Regions from separate parts of the Homo sapiens genome. Here all the other regions are linked to region 2. Evidence: fine-mapped expression QTL. A gene starts in region 2. Each other region holds a variant in brackets. All regions are shown on one strand. Distances are between the middles of the regions. Region 1 has its middle 110 kb from the start of RPS6KA3. Region 2 holds the start of RPS6KA3 (ribosomal protein S6 kinase A3). Region 3 has its middle 140 kb from the start of RPS6KA3.

The links. PIP is the estimated chance that this variant, and not a neighbour inherited with it, causes the effect. A credible set is the group of variants that fine-mapping cannot tell apart.
Region 1: its variant is the best candidate, but not a certain one, in a credible set for the expression of RPS6KA3 in fibroblasts (GTEx, PIP 0.57).
Region 3: its variant is the best candidate, but not a certain one, in a credible set for the expression of RPS6KA3 in whole blood (TOPMed, PIP 0.82).

What each region holds. Positions count from the first base shown.
Region 1 is chrX:20,371,296-20,374,144 of GRCh38, forward strand. No RefSeq gene overlaps it. Among named protein-coding and RNA genes, the nearest start is that of RPS6KA3, 110 kb to the left of the region's middle. The variant C/T (reference allele first, on the strand shown) is at 1,455.
Region 2 is chrX:20,265,443-20,267,942 of GRCh38, forward strand. RPS6KA3 (ribosomal protein S6 kinase A3) reads right to left here and starts at 1,467. Exons shown (of 22, transcript NM_004586.3): 1 at 1,122-1,467. The coding sequence starts at 1,190. RefSeq lists silencers at 928-1,187, 1,308-1,527, 1,949-2,243.
Region 3 is chrX:20,408,562-20,411,410 of GRCh38, forward strand. No RefSeq gene overlaps it. Among named protein-coding and RNA genes, the nearest start is that of RPS6KA3, 140 kb to the left of the region's middle. The variant A/G (reference allele first, on the strand shown) is at 1,592.

The sequences.
Region 1 (2,849 bases), 110 kb after region 2:
ATTACTGTAGCTTTATAGTAAGTCTTGAATCAGGTAGTATAAGTCTTCTAATTTTGTTCATTTTTAAGTCTAATTTTGTTCATCATAAGTCCTTTGTATTTCCATATAAATTTTAGAATTGGTTTGTCAGTTTCTAAAAAAAAAGCTTTCTGGGATTTTGATTGTGATTGCATTGAATGTATAGATTAATGTGGAGAGAATTGCGTCTTAACAAGATTGAGTCTTCCAATCCACGAGTACGGTATATTTTCCCATTTATTTAGTTCATCTTTAATTTCAGGCATAAATGTTTTACAGTTTTCAGTGTGCATCTAAATTGCAAGTTTGTTAAATTTATACTTAAGAATTCCATATTTTTGTTGCTATTGTAAATGGTAATGTTTTTTAATTTAAATTGCTAATTGTTTATTGCTAGCATATAGAAATACAATTAAATTTTGTATATAGACCTTGTATCCTATGACCTTACTAAATTCATTTATCAGCTCTAATAGGTTTTTCTATAGATTCCTTAGGATTTTCTATACATGTCACCATGTCATCTGCAAATAAATATAGTTTTACTTTTTCCTTGTCGATCTGTTCTTTTATTCATTTTTCTTGCTTTATTTCACTGGCCAAGACCCTTAGTACGATGTTGAATACAAGCGGCAAGTAGATATTCTTGCTTTGGTCTGGACCTTGGGGGGAAGCATTCAGTCTTTCCCCATTAAGTATGATGAAAACCACAGGTTTTTCTTAGATATTCCTTATCAGGTTAAGGAAGTTCCCTTCTATTCCTAGATTGCTGAGAGATTTTATCATAAGTTGGTGTTGAATTTTGTCAAATGCATTTTTCTGCAGTCGTTTGAGATAAACATCGGTTTCCTCTTTTGTCTTAATTACAGCATTGGTTTTAATAGTGAAAAATTAGAAACAACATAAATGTACCTCAATAAATCATGTTCACGCCATGAAATAGTATATAATAGCTAAAAATGATAAACATTTCTGTCTATATCAACATGGATAGGACTTAAATACTCAATATATATAGTGAAGAAACAGGATAATACCTGTGGCAGACATTTGTGGTTATTTTTGGTGGGGAGTACTCAGCCTCTAAACACTCTTCCTCTTTTAGGGGAACCCCTTTTTTCAACCAGAGAAAGAAAGCACACCAGAAATTTTAACAGAGAGAATTTAATTTAAAGAATTGTCAATTAGGTATTGGACAACTGAAAGCAAAAAGGAGCCACTAAGGACTACCACCCCTAAGGATGGATGAACCAAGGGAAAAGGTTGGAATCTTCAAAACGTAGAGGCTTGGAGGAGGAGCCCCATGGGGCATAAACTTGGACCTCTGAGGAGGATGAGGGCTGAATGCCTGGTACTGGAGTCTTTGAGCTCAGAGTGGGCATGATGAGCTGGTTCTGGGAGTGTTGGAAATATTGCAATCAGGAATTTACTGCTAC[C/T]ACAGGCATGAATCACCACTGCTGGGGTGAAAAAGCATTACTAAAGTAATGCTGACAGGCATAGGAAGTAAATAGGATGGAACATTGACCTTTCTTTCTTCCCCAGACTTTTAGGGTCCTCTATTGGCAGAGTCAATATAGGGAGCAAGTGATGAAGGAGAAATGAAGTTTACAGAAAAAGAGAGTCTCAGCCCTGACATCACAAAGGGATATACAGGAGCCTGCGCTTGAAGCAGCGATAAAATAGCTTCATAACTAGCACTCTCCTATTTTGTGAGTATTTTTGGGAGACAGTGTCTTGCTTCTGTAAGGGGCTCAGATACGCCCTCTCCCCGGCCTTTGCAGCTAGAGTGCAACCTAGGCCACCTGAATGGACTTTGAATCTTGAGAGAGTGATGCTAAAATTCAGGAAGAGTTGAAAAATTACTCGTGGTTGAAACAGCACATTGAGAGGCCAGAAGCGGGGGTGTCTAATGTGCAGGGAAGGTAGGAGCGATGGTGACACCTAAAACTGTTCCTGTGCTGTAACCTGGCTGTGCTTCCTGTTGTCCAGCTGTCTTTGCACTTGCTCATCTTATGAAACCATCTCCAGACTTTCCTTCTATCTGCTACTGACTCAATAACCAGTAAATCCTTTTTCTGCTCTCTTGCATCCAAGCACTCAAACTGAGAAAATATCATGCGTGCAAATGTTAACAGATAAGCACAAGCAAATATTATAAAACCTTAATTTTGTTAATAATCAACTTGTTAATTCTGGGTGATGGGGCTAGAGGAGTTTATGTTTTTCTTTGTACTTTTATAACTTTCTAAGTTTCAAAAACAAATTAAAATTTTAACACCTGTGTGAAAATTACTTTTAAAATTTCATAAAAGGCAAAAATTGGCTAAATACCCACCTCTATTTTCTTTTCCTTTTCTTATATTTTAAAAAGATGCCTCTAACCGTCAAATGTATCTGAAAATTAATTGGTAGATATAGAAAGTGAGGCCTCTATCTATGGTTTTTTTTTTCTAAATAATCAATTTTCCCAGCATCAAATTTCCCAGTCCCATTTACCAAGTAGTACTAACCTGAGTAATTTTTTAAAGTTGTGCTGCATTTCTGGTGCTGCATAGGTCTTGTGGTAATAGGTTTGGACAAGTTTAGTAATACCAGCCAGAGCTACACACCATTTCAAACCCTAAATTCCAACTATTGATTTGTTTCCATATTCTCCTACTACAGGTTGAGTTCTCCAAGAAGCAGGCTCTGAGACAGAGTTTAGTGGGAAGGATGTTTATGAAGTGTGCCCTTGAGGCCAACACCTGTGGAAGGGAGGAGAGGAAAGGGGAGAGAGAAGTCGGCCTGTGAAGCGGGCCCAGCTCAGGGCCCAGCTCCCATGAGAGAGGTGG
Region 2 (2,500 bases):
CTGCCCCGTTCCACCCCCGCGTTTCAGTCATGCTTTCCAGAAATGGGGTCACTCACTCAGTAACTATTACACACACGCAGCCTATCATCCTGTAATCCCCTAAAGTCCGCTGCGGGGAGAGAAGGCAGCAAAAAGTCAAGAAGGAAGAATCACAGACGCGCCACCATCAGGAATTGATTTTCCACTCCGGAGAGGAGCGGTGATACCTTGGAACGGGTCTTGTCTGGATTATTTTCGCAGACCCCGAGTTGTTCTGGGATAGGGGCGGTTCAGGAAAGCTCGGTGTAGTGATGCGCCCGGGGAAATTCTGTTTTGCCCTGTTTGGGTATATTGTTTGGGTTTTGGGCACTAGGATGGGTGACTCAGGGACGGTCACCAGATCCCGGGCGAGGAAAACCAGAAAGCCTTTTACGGCGGCCGCTGATCTCCTTGAATATCACCCTCTCACCTCCATGGACAGGAAACTCAAGTTAAACTCACAGGGACGGGGGTCTAGCTCTGCGACCTCAGAAACGGAGGGGGTAGGGGACCTTAGGCTTCCGCTTTCTTCTTTGCAGCAGCAGAAACCGCTGCGGCAGACGAGGGGGAGGCAAAACCCTGCACCCCCTACCCGAAACCCCCACAGGTCGCCGCCGCCCGTGCCCCGCGCGCCGGTCTCCCCGCAGCAGCCCCTCCCTCGGCTGGACTCGAGAGTCCCTGCTCCCCGGTGAACCCGATCCCTACCCCTCCCTCATCTCCCAAAGTCGCCAAGGTCCGGGAAAGCCCCCGACCCGGCTGGGCCAAACTTCCCAACTCCCCGCCGGCCCCCGCTCCGCCTCCCGCTTCCCCCACGCAAAGTTGATTAAAATTGGCTTCTTGCAAAGCCCCAGCGCCCACTCCAAACCCCACGCGCCACCACACTGGCAGCCCCCCGAGCGAGGGAAGGAGGTGAGGGTGAGGATGGAAGGAACAGACAGACCGGCCAATAGACCCACCCCAACAACCCAAACCAAAACCCTGAGCCCGGGGGAAAGACGCGAGCGGGATCAGAACGGGCCGAGTGGCCAGCTCCGGGGAGCGAAGCGAGCCGGCGGGGGCGCGAGGAGGAGATGCGCCGGCCCCGGCCGCCCTGCTGCACTCACCTCAGCGCTGTCGGACGGGCTCTCCACAGCCATCTTCTGCCACGGGTCCGCCAGCTGCGCCAGCGGCATCTTCCCCCCCGGCCCGCCGCCTTCACCGCCTCCTCCCTCCCCGCCCGCCCCACGGCCGGCCCCGCTCCGTCGCCGCCCGAGCCCCACGGCAGCGGCGGCGGCGGCGGCGGCGGCGGCAGCGGCAGCGGCAGCGGCAGCAGCAGCAGCAGCGGCGGCGGCCCCAGAGAGGGCTCGACGCCGACGCCGACCGCCCGAAAGCCGCGCGCCTGGCCAGAGACGCCCGCGCGCTGAGCGAGAGCCTCGCGCCTCCGCTGGGCACCGGGTCTCGCCCCTTTCTTCCTCTCCTCCTTCCGCCGCCGGGACTACGGCTCCGCCCCCCCCGCCGGTTCCCGCGCCCGCTCCCAGCAGAACAGCGACCGCCGCGCGCTCCCCCACTTCCGCTCACAACATGGCGCCTAAGCGATACCTGTCTCTCAAAGCGAGGCTCGGCCGCCGCCACCACCGCCGCGCGCACCCAGGGGCTGGGCTAGTGGAAGACACGCCCCCGGCCGCTGCGCTCCGCTCCTCCCTCTTCCCACCCCCCTCCTTCTGCGCCCCAACCTCAGCTTCTGGGCCTCGCCTACTTTCAGGAAGGGCGAGCCCAACAGATCTGGGGGCGTCGGCGGGAGGCGGGGGAAAGAAATGGGAAAGGCAGGAGGGGCGAAGGCTGGGAGCCTTTCACCGCCAAGGGTCCAAGGAGGTCGGAGGCTCCTTGGGAATGAGGGAGAACAGTGGTCCCCGCCCAGCTGGGGAGGGAGGTGGGCAAAGTACCGGGGGCGCAGTCCCGAGCCAAGGACCCGGGGAGGGGTGCGGAGTGTCTTTTCGGCTTGTCTCCTCCGGGGGTGCGTGCGTGCGGACGCGCCTAGTCTCTGGGCGCATCCCGTAATGGCCCAAGACCCTCCCTCTTCAGGGTCACATGCTGGGAAATCACCTGCCCCCCATCTCCCCCGACGGAGGCAAGGGAGGCTTCGTGCCTAGGAGCCTCCTGGGGGCTCGGCTCCCGGTTTGATTCAAGTCTTTTCAAGTTGACGCTCTTTTGTTAAATTGTGGCTATTTGGGATTAATTCCTCTTGTATTAGTCGCTTCCCCCGCACCGCCCCCAGCCCAAATTCTCCTCCCCAAGTGCGCAGAGCTCTCGGCCTTCAGCTGCGACCCTGGAACCGCTGCCCCCCGCCCCACGTCTGCTACCTAAATCTTCAAGAGGGGAAAACAGGGAGGTTCCTTAAGGCTGTCCCTCTCGGTAGAGGTTGGAGAATTATTTAAAAATATCTTGTAGGCAGGAGCGCGGGGTTCCTGCTCCTCTGTTGACTTTAAATAAGAGATTAGATTTA
Region 3 (2,849 bases), 140 kb after region 2:
GTGTAATGGTTAGTGTCCTGAAGCTCTGACTGCCTGAGGAACTCATCCTGAGGTAGGGGGGTTGTATTAGTCCCCAGTAACCACTGCAACAAATTCCCACAAATTGAGTGGCTTAAAACAAGTAAAATGTATTCTCTCACAGATCTGGAGTTCAGAAGTCCTAAATCAGTATCACTGGGCCCAAATCAAGATGTTGCTACACTCCCTTTGGAGGCTCTAGGGGAGAACTTGTTTCTTGTCTCTTCCAGCTTCTAATGGCTACTCAACATTCCTTGGGTTGTGGCTGCATCACTCCAATCTCTTCTCCCATCTTCACATTGCTTTCTCTGTGTATGTCAAATCTCCTGCCTCTTTCTTATAAGGATACATATGATGGCATAATTTAGGACCCACCTGGATAATACAGGAAAATCCCCCATCTGAAGATCCTTAATTTAATCACATCTGCAAAGTCAATTTTGCCATGTAAGGTAACAGTCACAGGTTCCAGGGATTCGAATGTGGATATCATGTAGGGGGCCATTTTATAGCCTACCGCAGGGGTGGACCTGTTGAGTAGGGTGGGGTGTCCATTTTGGCTGTGCAGTGCCTTCACTCCTGGGTGGTTGCACTGATACCGGCTGATTCTTGCTTTCTGACTGAGCCTTCTTTTTTGACCCCAATATGAGCATCCTTTTTCTGCCATTAAGATCTTTTATAAACATAGAACAATCCAATCAGCTTTTTAAAAGTTCTAGTTATATTCAAAATTTTGTTGATGGGATGTGGGTGTCCTCAGATATTTTCAGCCACAGTTTACATGGACTATACAGGTTATATTGGTAAGTAACACATCTGTTACTTAAACTCATCCATTCCTGGATATGCCTAAATAATGTCACCCCTACCCCAATATATTGACAGCAACAGATGCTCTGGAATATCCACATGCCGAAATCTCTTCAAATCCATTCTGACCTCTCCTGCCTCCCCAACCCACCCTAACGCATGCACGCGAGTGCAGGCGCACATCCCTCCCCCTCGCCCCATGAAGTTTCTTATATTTTTGGAAGCTTCTGGATAATTGACCTACTTCTGTAATTCTTTTGGCTTGTTTAGATTTGGGCAGAATTGAATCTTCACCTCTTATTAAAATTTCAATACAAATAAGATTTAGTTTGCTTAGTGCTCTCAGCCACCTTTGAATTAGTTGAGACTACAAGTGTATAAAACAGACACACTTGTTACATTCTGATTTTCTCTTATTTAGTGTAGAACATTTAAGATACCTATGATGCCGGGCCACTTTCAGAAAAATACAAATCATTCCTTCAACTTCGGCAGGTATGACAGTCGTGAGTAAACTGTCAGCATCTATTTGAAAATGCGAAGGGTAGAGAATGGAACTCGTAAATTTGACAAGCTCTTTATGTTCCATTCATAAGGGCTAGCGATAAATGAATCTTGATTTAACACTTATTTGTACTGTTATTGGCTTTAAAAAAAAAAGGAAAACATTTTATTGCACTCTGATTGTAGATTATGCTTCTCGGGACTCATCCCTCTGTTTAGCAACATAGGGCAGATTTGATTCAATATTTACCATGTAAAC[A/G]CATGGTTCAGTCTCATGAGTGACCATTTCTGGTTACCCGGCCCCAGTTGAGTGCAGCATTTCCACTCCATCTCCAGAGATCTTTATGTTAGTTTAAGGCAGTTGAAGGCCTTGTGCAATGTTTTTTCTTTTTGCTACATATGATCTCCTCTATTAAGTAAATAGCTTAAATTGTATTCGGGTTACCTTGGAATACGTAGTATAGTAGCATTTTACCTGTCGACTGAAAACAATTTGCAGAGGAAAGCTGATCTAATGCTACCTCCTTGCTTAATTTGTGGCTTCTTACAGAATATAGGGTAAACTCATTTTCTTATATCCATGTCTCTCCACTACCTGTCCCCAGGAAACCTCTCCAATCCTATCATTACCAACCATTTGCTATTATGAAAATGATCTCTGAGTATGCTTTATTAATTTCTGCCTCCCTCTCTCCCTCTTCCTTCCTCCCTCCCTCCCTCATTCTCTCTTTCCTCCCCGTCCATCTCTTTCCTTTTTCCCTCCCTCCCTCTCTACTGGCCTCTTTCTAGTGCATACTCATTAAGCACCTACAGTATGGTGGACTTTACACTTAGCATGGTAGGAAAGATGAAATCGACAATGCAGCCCCCAGCACTGCAGGGGATGTGGACAGAAGCAACAGTACTTACAGTATCTATAATGGTGAATGAATTACCCAACTTTGCTTGAGGAGGTCAGAGAAGTTTTCAGAGAAATGATGACTTGTAAGCTGAGTTTTGAAGGATAATTGGGGCTCACCAGGTAGACAAAGCCAATACATTTATGGTTCACAGAAGCAATGGTACAAATGGAAGAGCAGAGGCAAGAAACACCACATCTGTGCTACCTCCCTTCTCCCTTCCCTCTCTGCCTTCCTTGCACACATATTTAGCGGGTGATCATGTGGCAAGCATCGCCCTAGGTCTCCAGAGACAACACTAGACAAGAAGGACAATATTCCTGTCCTGGGGAAACTTATCTGCTAGTTGTGAAATGACACATGATTTGCTGAGACTAACAGCTCCTATATCCCTAAACACTTCAAAAAATGTTTGGGACGTGTTGCATTCTGAATGCTGCCTCCTGGAGTTTCACGGTGCACAATTTCACAGTCGAGGCCCTGGGAAGTCCTTCATCAAGAAATCTGTTATCTTCATTTACTGTGGTTCTCAAGTGCATTTAACCAGGGGAACTTTGTTTTAAGTAGCAATTAATACCACACAAAGCCAGTTTTCTAAAGGAGTCACTGCAGGAAATG